2 linked regions of the Homo sapiens genome follow. The protein of the gene in region 2 interacts with the protein of the main gene of each other region in a pairwise test. Each region holds a gene or a part of one and is shown on either strand. Other genes may lie near its edges.

Region 1 (8,009 bases), on a different chromosome or scaffold from region 2:
CAGGTCCGACTTGACACCTTTATAAATAGAATATAAAAGACTGAGGGGCCAGGCGTGGTGGCTCAAGCCTGTAATCCCAGCACTTTGGGAGGCCGAGGCAGGTGGATGGACATGAGCCCAGGAGTTCGAGACTAGTCTGGGCAACATGGGAGACCCTGTCGCTACAAAAAATACAAAATTAGCCAGGCATGGTGGTGTGTACCTGCAGGCCTAGCTCCTTGGAAGGTGAGAGGATCACTTGATCCCAGGAGTTTGAAGCTGCAGTGAGCTATGGTGGTGCCACTGCACTCCAGCCTGGGGGACAGAGTAAGACTCTGTCTCTCAAAAAGGAGAGAGAGGGAGAATGAGGGAAGAAGAGATAGGAAGAGAGAGAAACAGTATACCTTTTATCTCTTTGACAGGCATGTATTTCCTTGGAATGGGCAGGAATCCCTCAGAATCGGTGGCCACAGTGGGGCTTGGGACAGGACAGCAGAGCGGGGGGCAGCCACTCCAGGATAGGGTAATAAGACAGGACCTTGGTTGGAGTAGGGTCCCCAGAACTGAGTACTAATGGGGGCCCAGAGGCTTGGGAAGGAGAAGGCTTCCAAAACCAGTTCGAAAACCCAGACCCGGAGTGGACCTCCGTGCCAAGGGGTGGTGGTGGGTGGGTGGAGGAAGAGGTGGGCTCCTGCTTCAAGGTTAGGTCTTCCAGTGGAAGGTGGATGCTTTCTGTGAGTCCCCAGGGCCCTAGTTTCTCTGGCCCAGATACTGGAGGACAGAGGACCACCTACTTAGATCCCGTAGATGGTAAGTGGTGCCTGGGACTCTTGAGGGCGGGGGGCGGGGTATGAGAAGCATCAGTTCGCACTTGGTGCTGGGTCCTGGGCCCTGATAAGAACCTGGATGAAATCCTCTTCCATTCTCCCAACATCTGGCTGCATCCATGTGTCTGGTGTCAATGACTCCAGTGAACTGGAACTGCCCATATGGGGACCTGACCTTGAAGGAACTGGGGGGAGAAGCTTTTGTAACTGCAATGCCGGCATCAGTGTGTGTCCCCCTCTGCCTTTCCCCCCAGGCTCCCCAGGTCCCCCACCTGCTCCAGCCCAGCTGTCCCCTTCACGCTGCTGAGAGTGATATCCACCTGGAGTTGGGTGTAGAAGTTTTTCTTTTCATTGGTTCGGCATTTTATTCAGGCACTCCTGGATCTTTGCTTCCCAGAATATCAGTGTCTGTCCTTGTTCTCTGTACCTCCCCCGTGCCTCATCTCCTCTCCCTCCGCTGCTGTCCCCTCCCTCACCAACACTGCCTCAGTAATGCACCCCTGACTCCCTATTGAAGCAGTGTGCTGACATCCTTGTAAAAACAAATTTAATTTTCTTCCTTTTTTGGGACAGATGGAAAGAAATTGACGTCTTTGTCTCAAACAAAAGAAAAAAGAAAAAGAAACAATATACTTCTTTTCCCTTTGACAGCCATGTCTTTGGAACAAAAGCTGGGAGGCTGTCACTCCAGCAGGGACTGAATAGCATGCAGGGGGCTGGGGACTTAGGCACCAAGAGGGGCTTTGGGCACATTAGGGGGAAGGGATGCTCTCAGAGGGCAAAGCACAGCCCCCTTCTCAGGGTGAGGCTCCCAGCAGCCCCAGACCCGGGGATGTGCCTCCTTTGGGAAATGGCTACCCCGGGTCCTGGAAAGATGTGGGGCCATGCCCAGCACTCACATCCAGCCTGCCAAGCCATTGTGACCTGGGGTCCCAAGCCACCTAGATCACTCTCACTACCTTGTGACCACAGAGACCCCTGTGTCTGAGGGTGGGAGGTCGTCAGCATGGCAGGAGACACTTCTCCTCATCAGGGGTCCTCCTGTGAATGCTTTGGGGGTATGGCAGAAAAAGGGACAATCTAGGAACTGGGGAAGACTCCTGAAGGAGGTGACATTGGAGCCAGGCTGTTTACTCTCCCTGCAGGACCTGTGTCCCCTCCCAGGATAGGCCTGTTTCAAGGCTGCTTGAAGCCCACTCACTGCCATCTCCTGTGTCTGTAACAGATCTGGCTGTTTTTTGCCCCTTCTGATATGTAAATCTGTCCTGAGGTCAGCAGGGCCCGGGTCCGGACCACGTGTGTTTAAGGTAGTGCAAACTTGTATTGAAATCTACTTCATGCCAAGCATGCACTCTGGGCATCAGGACTCGGAATGAGTCAGCCTTGGCCCTGCCCTCAGAAAGCCTGAGCCAGTGTTGGGAGATAAAGCATCAACAGATGATTGCACCTCAGTGTGATGAGTGCGGTGACAGGGAGCCCCAGGGAGGGTGTCACAGGGAAGTGCCTTTTCTAGCTTTTCACTAAAACACATGTTTGTCGCAGTTCTGTAAGAGGTGGAAAAGGGTCGGGGACCCTGAAGGATGAATAGGAGTTGGCCACCAAAAAGAGGAAATAGCGTGTGCGGAGGCATGGGGATGTTTAAATGCTTGGCAAACCCAACAAGTTGGGTGCAGCTGGAGCATGGGGCTTAACTAAGCTCTTCTGTGTGCCAGGCTCTCTGCCAGGTGTCTTGTGTGCATCAGCCCACCTGATCCTCAGGACAGCCTGGTGAGGAAGTAGTGTTATCCCCATTGAGGACAAAGAGAGCTGAGGCTGAGAGAGGTCAGGCTACTTGCTCCTAAGTCACAGGGCCTGTTCGTAGTGGCAGAACTTGGGTCCCTGGAATTCCAGGGTCCATGTTTCCAGTTAATTCCAGGCATCAGTGAAGTAGAAAGGCCTTAGAAGCTGGAACCCCAGAATGAGGTTTTGAAGACCTAAAACCAAATGGAAAAATCTAAAGGAAACGAGCAATTTTCCATGAACTTTTGTTCCTCCTGAAGCTCTCCAAATCTTCACGTTTCAGAATGTACTGTGCATGGTGCATTTTAAAGCTCTAAATTGACAGTGTAATTCTAGATCGTCACAGGGTTCTCAAAACTGCAGAGTAGGTCTGTTTCCCCCAAAATTTCCATTTATCTCCCTCCAGGAGGAGGGAGGGAAGTTTTTGCCCCTGATTTCAAAATGTCCTACTGTTTCAGATCTCTTCTTCTTCATCATCTTTTTTTTTTTTTTTTCAGCCAGTGTCTTGCTCTGTTGCCCAGTCTGGAGTGCAAGTGCAGTGGTGCAGTCATAGCTCACTGCAGTCTCAAACTCCTGGGCTCAAGTGATCTTCCCACCTCAGCCTCCTGAGAATCTGGGACGACGGGTGTGTGACACCATGCCCAGCAATTTTATTTTTATTTTTATTCATTTATTTTGTTTGGGTTTTTTTTTTTCTGAGACAGGGTCTCCCTCTGTCGCATAGGCTGGAGTGCAGTGGCACCATCTCGGCTCATTGCAACCTCCGCCTCCTGGGTTCAAGTCATCCTCCCGCCTCAGCCTCCTGAGTAGCTGGGATTACAGGTGTGCACCACCATAACCCAGCTAATATTTTTATTTTTAGTAGAGACGGGGTTTCACCATTTGGCCAAACTGGTCTCGAACTCCTGACCTCAGGGGATCTGCCCGCCTCAGCTTCCCAAAGTGCTGGGATTACAGGCGTGAGCCACCAAGCCCGGCCAATTTTTTTTTTTTTCAATAGAGACCAGAGTGTCTCTGTGTTGCCCAGACTGGTCTTGAACTTCTGTCCTCAAGCAATTCTCCTGCCTTGGCCTCCCAAAGTACTGGGTTTACAGGTGTGAGCCACTGTGCCCAGCTCTCATACCTCGTCTTGATGCAGTAGAAGTAGTGGTTAAGCCTGGAATCAGATCTTGGTTTTCCCTCTCTGAGCCTCAGTTTCCTCATCTGTAGAGTAGACTTCCTTCACGGGTGGTTGTGAGGATTTAATGTATGTATAGGGATAAGGCCCAGAACGTAAGTAAACTCTAAGTACATGGTAAGTGGCAGTCACTGCTTACAAGTGGAGCCAGGGTTCAGGGTCAGAGCTAGAGACCTACAGGGAAGAGTAGGTGAGCTGTCGGGGCTAGTGATGGAGAGAGAGAAGAGACTGGAGATCCAGCTTGGGGATCCCCTTGCTTCCTGGCCCAGGAGCCACCATGGAGAGTGAGAAGCTGCCAGAGAAGCAGGAGGAGGATGGAGAGAATGTGCTACCATGGAAACTGGAGGAGGAGGGCGTTCCCAGGAGGAGGGAGTGATGGATAATGTCAAGTGTCATAAGAGAGGATGCGAGTAGGGAGGGCAGGAGGGTGATGGGAGCTCTCCAATTTAGTTTTTTACATGGCCCAGGCAGCCCCCAAGCCTGGATCAAATCCCAGCTCTCAAGCTAACTGGCTGTGTGACCTAGACAAGGGATTTGCCTTCTCTGAGCTTCAGTTTCCTTCTAGAGTTGAGATGTGGGAATTGGTCCATCTCTAATACGATCATCAGCCTCACTTAATAAGAGTCCTAGCTTTGCCGAATTCTTGGCCACGTGCTAGCAGTGTGATCTTAGGCAAGTCACTTCACCTCCACGAGAGCACTCTCTGAAAGCTAGAGATATGGTAAGCAAAGTGCCACCAAAGTGCCTGGCACATAGTGGGGCCTCGATACAGGCTTATTCTCTGATAATTACACGTGTGCCAGAGGCAGCTGCTCTAAGGAGGCTTGCTGGGCTTGGAATTAGAAATGCTCCTCAAGGGCTGGGTGCAGTGGCTCACGCCTGTAATCCTAGCACTTTGGGAGGCCAAGGCGGGTGGATCATGAGGTCAGGAGTTCAACACCAGCCTGACCAACATGGTGAAACCCTGTCTGTACTAAAAACACAAAAATTAGCCAGGCGTGGTGGCGTGCACCTGTAATCCCAGCTACTCAGGAGGCTGAGGCGGGAGAATCGCCTGAACCCAGGAAGCAGAGGTTACAGTGAGCCAAGATCTTGCCACTGTACTCCAGCCTGGGCGACAGAGCGAGACTCTGTCTGAAAAAAAAAAAAAATTAAAAAGAAATGCTCCTCAAGTTGGAGAGGGCCCACTAGCATCCTGAGAGGACTTGGAAGAACAACAGTCCAGGCTGGGCACCTGCTGGGTCTCTGTCCAAAGGCCAGCCCTCTCTTTGTGTCAGCCGCAGATCCCTCACCTAGGGCATGACTACTGGCTGCCAGCTCCCACTAACACCTGCTGCAGATCCAGACTGAAGCCGGCCCCAGCGGCCCCAAAGCCCCTAGGAAGTGACCACCCCCCATCCCTGGCACCCAGATCCTGGCCCCTGCACTCACACACAAAACACATACAGATGCCTCTCTTTCATCATGTATTTATTCCTTTATTTCTGGGAGCCGGGAGGAGTGACGGGAGCAAATCAGGACCTGGCCGCCCCACGCTGAGCTTGCAGATATTGAGAGTTGGGTGACAGATGGCTGTGTGGTTCAGGCTGCAGGCAGCTTGGGAATTCAAAATGGGGCTTAGAGAGGAGCTGGAGGGGGCCCTCGAGGTGGACGTAGTGATGCAGTAGGGCATGGCACTGCGAGGTTGCCCGGGTTCTAGTCCCAGCACCATCACCGGGGATGAGCCGTTTCAGAGTGTGGCACTCTGTCACACTCCATTTCATTGAGAGGCCACTGAGACATTATCAATGGGTAATGTACAGCACTTCCATGGCATAACTCATTTAATCTTCACAGCATGATGATGAGGTAGGCATAGTATCATTACCTCCATTTTACAGATGGGGAAACTGAGGCTCAGAGAAGGGAATGACTTGCCCAAGACCACATGGCTTCTCAGTGATTGGCTCAGCTAGGATCCCACCTTTGGTCCTTCAAGTCCACTTCCTCTGCTTTCCTCTTCCTGCACCCTGAGAGGAAATGCTCTGAGTATACCGAGGGTCCTCAGGAGACTCTCACATCCAGCTCACAGTCACAGGCTGAGCATTCCCTGTGCTGGGTTCTGTACCTCATCATGTTGGCAGCAGAGGCACGTGCCAGCTGCTCAAAAAACTGCTGTAACCTTGGTAGATCCCTCTCCCCATCCATTTCTTCCTTGCCTTGGAAGTCCTGCTTGTTTGATAATTTTCTGACTGACTGCCATGTTGTTGCCTTGTGACCTTGGGCATGTCATTTCACTCTGAGCCATTTCTCAGTCATGGATGACAGCACTTAGCTGATGAGAAGTTGAGAAGATTCAGAAAGAGGCTATGAGTGAAGGACCTTGTCTGTTTTGGTCATGAAAGTGTTCCCAGGAAATGCAAATGGACACACAGTAGTTATCTACTGAGCTAATGAACAATGTCCCTGGTGCATAGTAAGTGCCCAATAAAATGCAGCTTTTTTCATATTATCTAATGTTTTAGGCCATGCCTGCACCAACCCATGCTTCTTTTTTTTTTTCTTTCTTTCTTTCTTTTTTTTTTTTTAAGACAGAGTCTCACTCTGTCACCCAGGCTGAAGTGCAATGGCGAGATCTCGGCTCACTGCAACCTCCGCCGCCCGGGTTCAAGCAATTCTCCTGCCTCAGCCTGCTGAGTAGCTGGGATTACAGGCACGTGCCCGGCTAATTTTGTATTTTTAGTAGAGACGGGGTTTCGCCGTGTTGGCCAGGCTGGTCTCGAACTCCTGACCTCAACTGATCCACCCACCTCGGCCTCCCAAAGTGCTAGGATTACAGGCATGAGCCACCGTGCCCAGCCCAACCCATGGTTCTTAATGCTGCAGGTGGGTCCGGAGAAAGGCTTTTCTCTTTTAACCATCTCCTTGAATTTCAGAAGGTGGGACAACATGTGCTGGAAAGCAGTTCTTAAGAGGACATCTTTTCCCAAGCTCCTTAGCCTTAGCTGTCCTCTCCTGCCCTCACCAGGACTGCCCTCTCAGGGACCCAAGAGGAAGGGACAGCCTGGAAAGGAAGAAGGTCCCGGGCCATCTGCGTCATGGGGATGGAGTCCCTTGGCGTGTGCCGGTGCAAATACACTCCTGTAACGGGGCTCATCTAGAATCTCCTCTCGGAATGAGGAGACCGCAAATGTGGTTTTGAATCTTCATTGTCCACTTCATTGCTGTGGTGTTGGGCAGGTCTCTGTCCCTCTCTGGGCCTCTGCACGATGGAGGGGTAGGAGTTGATGGTTCTGAAGGCTCTGCCATCCTGGAAAAGAACTGAGACACTTCCCTCATGTTCCTGGGTCCCAGAAACAGACATCTGTTGGTAAAATCTACTGGGCATTTGCCCAGAGACAGGGAAAAGAATGCCTGGGGGTCTGTAATAGGAGCTGCCCCAATTAGGGGCAGGGAGGCGGGCATGTAAAAAAGGAAGCTTAAAGCTTTGTTTTCAGGCTTTTTGCCTACCCCAGGCTCCATCTTGGTACCAAGTACTCAACCTTCTGTTTTCTCAATAAAGTGAGCCCTCTTCTCGGTGTCTGCATCTCTGGCTGTTTTGTTTGCTTACCTCTGCCAGGTTCCCTTGTAAGGGGCCCCCAGTCTGGGGGATCACATAAGCCTATGGGGAAGTCTGGCTCTGCCCTGAGGATGTGTCTCAGAGGGAGAGGCAATGTTGTCCTTAAGAACCCTAGTTTGGACCAGGTGTGGTGGCTCACGCCTGTAATCCCAGCACTTTGGGAGGCTGAGGCGGGTGGATCACGAGGTCAGGAGTTCAAGACCAGCCTGGCCAAGATGGTGAAACCCCGTCTCTACTAAAAATACAAAAATTAGCCGGGCATGGTGGTGGGTGCTTGTAATCCCGCCTACTCAGGAGGCTAAGGCAGAGAATAGCTTGAACCCGGGAGGCGGAGGTTGCAGTGAACCGAGATTGCGCCATTGCACTCCAGCCTGGGCGACAAAATGAGACTGTCTAAAAAAAAAAAAAAAAAGGCTCTAGTTTAATGGGAGAGACAGACACACAGGCAGGCATTTCCTAGAGCGAGCTCTGAACCAAACCAGGCCTCGGTGCTCCATTCCCCTTCCACCCTCTGAACTGGCGCCTCCCCTTCCCTGCAGCCCTCCCCCCCGCCACTCCCCTAATCTAAGTCCCTTGTTCTCCAGAGCCCTCCCCACCCCACATGCCTCTTGGGGCTCCACTAAATCTCTCTCCCATCTCTCTGCCCCTC
Region 2 (8,009 bases):
TGTTCTCTATACCAGGCCAGCAGAAACTTGCATAAAATGTACATCACAGATGACAATTAGTGCCTGTACATTAAGAATACAATTCCTATGACTACCTACACAGCAGAGCAGGAGCCTTCTTCCCCTCAAGCAGAGTACAACTAAAGTTCTGAGCTAAGAACTGGAGAGAAAGTTGGACATGTCTGTTAGTCCCAGGTAAGCCACTTACGAGTTAAAGACAAGACAGTTATTTTTCTCTGTCCATTTAAAATGTTTTATTTTTTTAAAACTAGATGACGTGCCACTGAAATAGGCAATGTTGGCAAAACAATGTCTGTTACAATAAAATACATTAGACATTTAAATAAATAACCTTAAAAACTATGTGAAGGGACATAAACCCAGTCGATTGAATCTGGAACAATGTTTTCTGCACAAGCGAGTACAGGCATACCTCTCGTTAAAACTGATGTAAACAGAACGAACCATCACAATCCTAAAGAAGAAGCCAAGCGGGGCGGGGGTAAGGTGGGGAGAGGTGGGGTGGGGTGGGGTGAACGGAGGCCAAAGTGGGTGAGGGAAGTAGCAAACCAAAACAATACTGACTGAGGTAGCAAGACTCTGCTCAGTGCAGAAAAATTGGCTTATGAATAAAAATTAGACTGTGATATCAAATTAAATCCGGATCATCATGCAAAAGACACAATACATGCTATTTAGTTTTAGAAAAAAAACCACACACATTCATTTCCTAAAATCTGCTGCCAATTAATTTGCTGACAATGTCTGCTGGCTCAACTATTTTTTTTATACAAGGATGAGTATTAAACAGAACACTGTACATGCTTTTTCATCTACAAAAAAATATTTGCATAAAATAGTGTTAGTTCTCTGTACATGTCAATGGACACTTTAATTATGTGTATAAAAAAGGAAAATCTTGCCCCACTGGAGTCAGAAAAAGCAAAACAAAATCTAGAGTATGAAACCTCCATCACCAGCCAGTATGTTCATGTGAAAATTCAGCAGAAATAGACAGTTGCTTTAAACAATAAAAAAATTAATTGATTAAGTTAAACATCTTCTTTATGGAAAACTGTCAGTCAAGACCAGAACATATCGCTAAAGTTAGTGTCTGTGCTATAGACCCAGATCACCAGGGGCATTATGAGCAGCACAAACGGCCAGGAAATCCCATCGGTGCATGCCGAGAACGAGCAGGATTTGGTGGCAGGCTGCACACACTCTTTACCAGGTTCCAGGTAGTTGCGGGCCACAAACTTGAGCGTCTCATCCATGAGAATCACGGGCAAGGAGATTTTCAGCACCATCAGCCACTGGGTCACGTTCAGCGGTGTGATCTGGAAGATGAGCTGACACACAGGGAAGACGTGTCACGCCTCCAGCCTCCCCTGGAAGGAGGTGGCTGGTCCCAAGCCCCACCCAACCACTTACTGGCAAGGGTTCGACATAGAGGATCAGGAAGTGGAGTGACATGGACAGGCAGATGGAGCCCACGAGCCAGATGTTCTCCCAGGGGGGCATCCTCAGCAAGGACTGGTTTTCGGACAAGCTGCAGAGCAAGGAGAGGTGGGGAAACGCACCCCCAAGGCAAGGCACGTGTCACAGTGGCAGTAAGACCCTGTTGGACTACACTTCAGTAAGGCGGCTGTTAATGTGGCACCATCCGCTGACCTACCTCCACTTTCTACAGTGGCAAAGTTGAAGAGAATGTCCTAATGCAGGACAAACTGTGAATTCTGTATCTATGTTTTGGCATAGCAGACCCCATCTTAGTGGGTTCAAAGCTGTTCCCAATTGCCCTGGAGACTTGGGCTATTTAGAAATTTCCATTTTTGTCACGGGCTTAACTGGATGGTACCATTTGTCTGTGTGAAAGGGTGAGGTTCCTTCCCTGTGGGTGCTGGCATACAGGGGTACCAAAGTTCCTATTTTTGGCCCCCACGGTTTCTTTTAAGGAAGAGCTCCTAAGAAACACAGGGCTAAGCACTCCCACTACTTCCTGGAGGTGACGACAGCTCATGCTTTTAAAACTGGTATTGCCTGTTCTCCTTTCTTTTGGGAAGGGAAGAACTGTCCTGTGATCCTCAATCAACCGTGACTACACACAATTCCCCGGTGCCCTGGCAGTCACCATGCTCGCCTCAGCCTGCCGTGAAGGTGCACTAACCTGTTGAGGGCGTTACACATTTCTATAGTTACTAGAACAGAGAGCGCCATTGTCATCGGGTATGGGGATTCAAAGATTGCACAATCCACGCCTTCAAAGTCCGGGTTGTCCTCTTTACACTGTAGGAAATGACTCTGCAAGAAAATCCAATCAAATTCCTATCAGCCCAGTATATTTCCCAAGTCCAGGCTCCAACCCCATACCAAGCCTAGCACAGACCAGCCTGAATGCAGAGCCAGCCAAGAGGTTTACCCCAATTTCTCGGAGAAGCCCTGGTCCTTCAGAATCATCTTAGATGTAACTGTTTATTGTCTGAGTCTTAAGATGATTTGATAGATACCGAAACCACAGAAAGGTCAAGGCCTCACAACACTTCTCATGTAAGGTACAGAAAGAAAGGTGACTGAGTACCAGCTGGTAGAAGGACACTCTTGGACCACCGTCAGCAGCAATGAACCACCATGCAGCAGCACCCACGGTAGCAGCGCCGACGTAACCTGGGAACAAACACAGTGATGCTGATGCACTTGCCTCTGCAGGGCTCGCTGCCACCGAGGCCATGCAGGCCAGTCCCCACAAGGACGAAGATCAAAGACATGGGACAGTGATGGTAACCGGGGCCTGTGGTGCTACCACCACCTGCTCACGCCTGGTAGCCAGAGCAACTAGACCCTGGTTTCTGAAGGACAGGGGTGTTTCTAGAACAGAAGAACTGGATAACTTTTCCTCCAGAATGTGTGAGAAAAAGCACTTGCTCCATCCTGTGCCAACCTTTCCCCTTGCCGTGCCTTCTCCCCTCAGTGGGTAGTACTTCAAGGCTGCAAGTGTGTGTGTACTCCATGTAAGGCTGCACAGTTTGAGGGACTAGATTACACCAGGACTTTTGGACAAACTATTGCTGCCTAGTTGTACACAGATTTATTTGCTCCATTAGAGGCCCAGCAGCAGTTTTCTAGGGAAATGCTGTCAGGAGCTAGGGTGGAACACTGAGCAGCATGGCCCTGCCCTCAGCAGCTTCTGGGATTCCCCCCAGTATTAGCTTTGAGTTCAGGAAGTTTATTGCAAAGAAGCAACAAGGTGCAGCAGAGAATACACAGAGTTCAGACGAGGCAAATATCCCCATGTGGTAGCATCAAAAACAACAAGTGCATATACCCACTAACCCACGAATTACAGTGGAGCATGAAGGCCGCTGGCTGCAAGGATGAGGCACTACGCATGTCCGGATATGGAAGGATCTGACAAGCAGGAAGAAGGCAAGACAAGGGTCAACATGCAGGTGTGCACAGCATGCTGGAATCTCTCCGGAAGGGCACAGGGTACATGAGCACCTCAACGCCAGAGGGAAGTGACTGGCCCAAACCCTTTCCATTCTATGCCATTGTGTGCTTTTTGAATTTGAAGTCATGTGAATATATTATGAAAACACAATGCCTTCCTATGGGATCCCAGGGAAGTGATTTCACCTCACTTTCCCAATCTATGAAATGGGGAAGAACCCGGGGTGAGGAAGATGAGGGCTAAAGAGATGATTTATATATAAAAGGGACCAGCCACTGCGCAACCCTTCTCTTATGGAAACAGGGACTAAATTTTATAACTTGGTGACAATTATCTATTTAAATCCCACCTATGAACTCTTGGAAGGCAGAACCTAGCGTGAATCATTCTTATCCCTTTGCACAGAGGGCTCAATCTGAAAACCCTGATGTTTAATTGCTCATTCAGAAAAGCCCAAGTAAGGGCAGGATGCTAAAACTGGAACTAACTGTGAAAGGACTCTGGTAAATTGGATGTATAGTTCATCGAACTGTAAGAGGGCATCTCTGTCTTTTGCTACCCTATACGGGGATAGAAGAAAAAACACGCTTTTAAGGGATGAATTTACAAAATTTCAGCTCACAAACATTTTGTTTAAAAATCAGTAATATAAAAAAATTGTACTCACAGCCAATAGCCAAGTAACGGAAAAAGAGCCACCCGCTGATCAATGGTTCCTTTGGGTTCCGGGGAGGTTTATTCATGATGTCCAGATCAGGAGGGTTGAACCCCAGTGCAGTGGCAGGCAGGCCATCTGTCACCAGATTGACCCAGAGCAGCTGAACAGGAATCAAAGCCTCGGGAAATCCAAGGGCTGCTGTCAGGAAAATACTGTTTCCAATCAAGAAAAGAAGACAAAGAGAGCCCAAATGACTTCTGGCCACTATTTAAAGAGCATCATCAACCCGCCCTCCTCCAGAAAAATAAATGACAACAACTTCAGGTAATCTGTAAAATACTTATACCCAATTTTGAATTAAAGCTCAATTTTACTTAGTTTATTACTTAAATTCAGATGACTGAGGCCAGGTGCGGTGGCTTATGCCTGTAATCCCAGCACTTTGGGAAGCCAAGGTGGGCAGACTGGCTGAGCTCAGCAGTTAAGAGACCAGCCTGGGCAACATGGTGAAACCTCATTTCTACTAAAACACAAAAAAATGGCAGGGAGTGGTGGCGCATGCCTGTAATCCCAGCTGTTCGGGAGGCTTGAACCCAGGAGGTGGAGGGGACAGTGAGCTGAGATCGTGCCACTGCCCGAAGCCTGGGCGACAGCGAGACTGTCTCAAAAAAATAAATAAAAATAAAAAAATTATTAAGCTGACTGAGATAAAGCCAACTTTTGGAGGGCAAGAATTTCATGTGACTACCTGGTTAATGTTAGCTCAGTCTCACGTTAAAGAGGATTCTTTGCACATTGGGGCAGCTGCAGACAACCCTCCCGAGGGCCAAAGCACCACTGCTTCCATAAGGCATTTCTGTCTTGCCCACTCCCCTCTTCCAACTCAGGCACAAAGACCAAAGCTGCTGCAATCTGGAGAGCAAACTGCGAGAACTGGGCTCCATGACCCATTTAGATAAAGGCGTACAGTAAGTGATGCTGTCACAGAGACCTACCAGACAACTTCCCCGACGTTGGACGAGATGAGGTAGCGGATGAACTGTTTCATGTTGTTGTAGATTGCCCGCCCCTCCTCAACGGCAGCCACAATGGTGGAGAAGTTGTCATCCGCCAGGACCATCTCAGAGGCGGTTTTAGCCACCGCAGTGCCAGAGCCCATAGCAATGCCAATCTCGGCTTTCTTCAGAGCAGGAGCATCGTTCACGCCATCGCCAGTCTGAAAGGGAAAGCAATGGTTGGGTCAGCCAACTGGCATGCCACATTCATACCCCTAGGCAAAAGCCCACTGAATGGGAAGCAGGAGGAAAATGAATAGAGCCGTAGGTCTCTTGGCAAAGAGTTTTAGAATTTTTGTTTCATAAGTTGGTGTCACAAAACACATTTTACCTAGGAAATGTAAAATTACCAAATAAGTTTACCGAAGTGGGACAAAGGGGACTTCAAATTTATCTGTATTATCTTACTAAAAACAAAAACACAACCTATGTGGCAGTCAAGAGGAAGCACTTGTATCCACATGGATAAATTTCAAGTAGAAAGATGCAGATTGCAAAAATATGCAAATTTTTATTTTTCTGAGATGGAGTCCCGCTCTGTCGCCCAGGCTGTAGTGCAGTGGCGCAGTCTCGGCTCACTGCACGCCTCCTGGGTTCAAGCGATTCTCCTGCCTCAATCTCCCGAGTAGCTGGGATTACAGGCGCCCACCACCACACCCAGCAATTTTTTGTATTTTTAGTACAGACGGGGTTTCACCATGTTGGCCAGGCTGGTCTTGAACTCCTGACCCCAAGTGATTCACCTGCCTCGGCCTCCCAAGTGTTGGGGTTACAGGCATGAGCCACTGCACTCGGCCAAAAAATATGCCTTCAAAAGCATGCAAAAATAATACTGTCTACAGACACAAAAACAGCACTCCCATGTTTTTAATATTTTTGCTAAATTCCAACTTCAGTTACCTCTGGGGGAGAGGAGAGTACACTTATAGTATGTTTCAAAACTAAGATTTTTTTTTAAAAGAGAAGAAAGTAAATTTAACATAATGTATCTGGGTGAAAATCAGGTGAGGGGAAGAATACTGGAAATGCTTCATCAATAGCCAGCTCTTAAAGAACTTAAAAGCAGGGTGATCCAAACAACTGACTGATTACATCCTCAATTTTCAGAAAACTTACAATAAAAACACGTCTCATTTAAAAAAGAGACTAGATCACCAGATTGTTCCTCTGGGACTGATCTGGAAGGCCCTTCTGGGTTTTAAACGACTCTAGGATCTTCCCTGCAAGTAGCACACAACATGCTAACCACTGATTCACCGAATTCTAGAGAAAAGACCCAAATCATGACAAATTCCAAATTAGGGAGCTATGACAAAAAAATTCAGTGGTCAAAATTAGAGGCTACTATGTGCTTGTGTAGCCTGAGTCACCTGTACATGTTCAAACATGCTCACCATAGCTGTAATCTCATCAAAAGACTGAAGAAATTCTACGATTTTAGACTTGTGGGAGGGTTCAACTCGAGCAAAACAGCGGGCGTTCAGGCAGGCGTCTCGCTGGGCGGAGGGGTTGAGTTCATCAAACTCCCGGCCTGTGAAAGCTTTTGACGTCACGTCCTCATCCTGCCCGAAGATGCCGATGCGGCGACAGATGGCCACAGCAGTGCCCTTGTTGTCCCCAGTGATCATGATGACCCGGATGCCTGCTTGCCGGCACAGCTTCACGGAGGAGGCCACCTCGATTCTCGGAGGATCCAGCATGCCCACGCAGCCAACGAAGGTCAGATTGGTCTAAAATAAGAGCATCACTTTAAATAAAAGTGGCAAGTTCTAGTTTTTGTCCCCTAGTTTGAAAAATGCCCAGTTAAACATTGAGACAGGTTTCTGCATTTTTTTTCTTTTTTTTTTTTTGAGGCGGAGTTTCGCTCTTGTTGCCCAGGCTGGAGTGCCATGGCGCAATCTCAGCTCACTGCGACCTCCGCCTCCCAGGTTCAAGAGACTCTTCTGCCTCAGCCTCCAGGGTAGCTGGGACTACAGGTATGCGCCACCACACCTGGCTAATTTTGTATTTTTAGTAGAGATGTGGTTTCTCCATGTTGGTCAGGCTGGTCTCAAACCCCCAACCCCAGGTGATCTGCCAGCCTCGGCCTCCCAAAGTGCTGAGATTACAGGCATTTGAGCCACCGTGCCTGGCGGTTTTTGCATTTTCTTATGAGAAAAAAAAATACCACTACACCCGTTATCAAACCATTCTTTAACTCTTGTGCTATTCTGAGCCCACAGTACCAAAGCTTCTTCATTTTGTTCATAGCTTTAGGATGTCACATCCTTGATATAAAAGAATTCTACTCTGAGTAGAAAAGTGGAAGTAATCTCCAACTTGGATCTTTTGACCTTCAGTAACTAATGAATATTCTAGAAATGTCACCAATTTAAAAAAAATCATGATTTAGATGAGAGGCAAAATGGGGTTTACAAGCTTAAGCTCATCTTGATTATTCTACTTTGAAAATATTCTACTTTGAAAATAACACTTTTATGAAATTATTAACTATGTATGTTTGAAGCAGCAAATTTTAAGGGTGACACAGCTGGCAGGCAGAAAAACAAATAACCACACCTCTTTCTTGGCAAAAGTGAGAACTGTTTGACCTTTTGCTTGAAGGAGTACTGTTTAAACACAATGAATCGTGCAGGGTGTGGACAAAGAAACTTTTCATTAGCTAACCTCATATTTAATAAAGTTGGCAGAGTCCTCAAGGTGCATTTCTTCTCTTCTCAGTGGGTTGTCATGAGTGGCCAGGGCCAGGCATCGCAGTGTGTCGCTGCCACTACCCCACTCTCGAATGACAGACATGATCTTCTGTTTGACTCCAGAGGTCATAGGAACCTTAGTACTTCCAACT

What was found.
Region 1: the proteins of ATP2A2 (region 2) and OPRD1 interact in binary tests that used the Homo sapiens proteins (3 or more experiments, as listed by UniProt).

Annotation. Positions count from the first base shown.
Region 1 is NC_000001.11:28,863,941-28,871,949, forward strand, and holds the end of OPRD1 (delta-type opioid receptor), read left to right. Parts: 3' UTR 1-7,327; downstream 7,328-8,009. UniProt on the Homo sapiens protein: G-protein coupled receptor that functions as a receptor for endogenous enkephalins and for a subset of other opioids.
Region 2 is NC_000012.12:110,339,544-110,347,552, reverse strand, and holds part of ATP2A2 (sarcoplasmic/endoplasmic reticulum calcium ATPase 2), read right to left. Parts: coding exon 7,832-8,009; intron 6,895-7,831; coding exon 6,559-6,894; intron 5,326-6,558; coding exon 5,105-5,325; intron 4,322-5,104; coding exon 4,119-4,321; intron 2,668-4,118; coding exon 2,582-2,667; intron 2,305-2,581; coding exon 2,171-2,304; intron 1,553-2,170; coding exon 1,435-1,552; intron 1,353-1,434; coding exon 1,083-1,352; 3' UTR 161-1,082; coding exon of another isoform or gene 141-160; 3' UTR 1-140.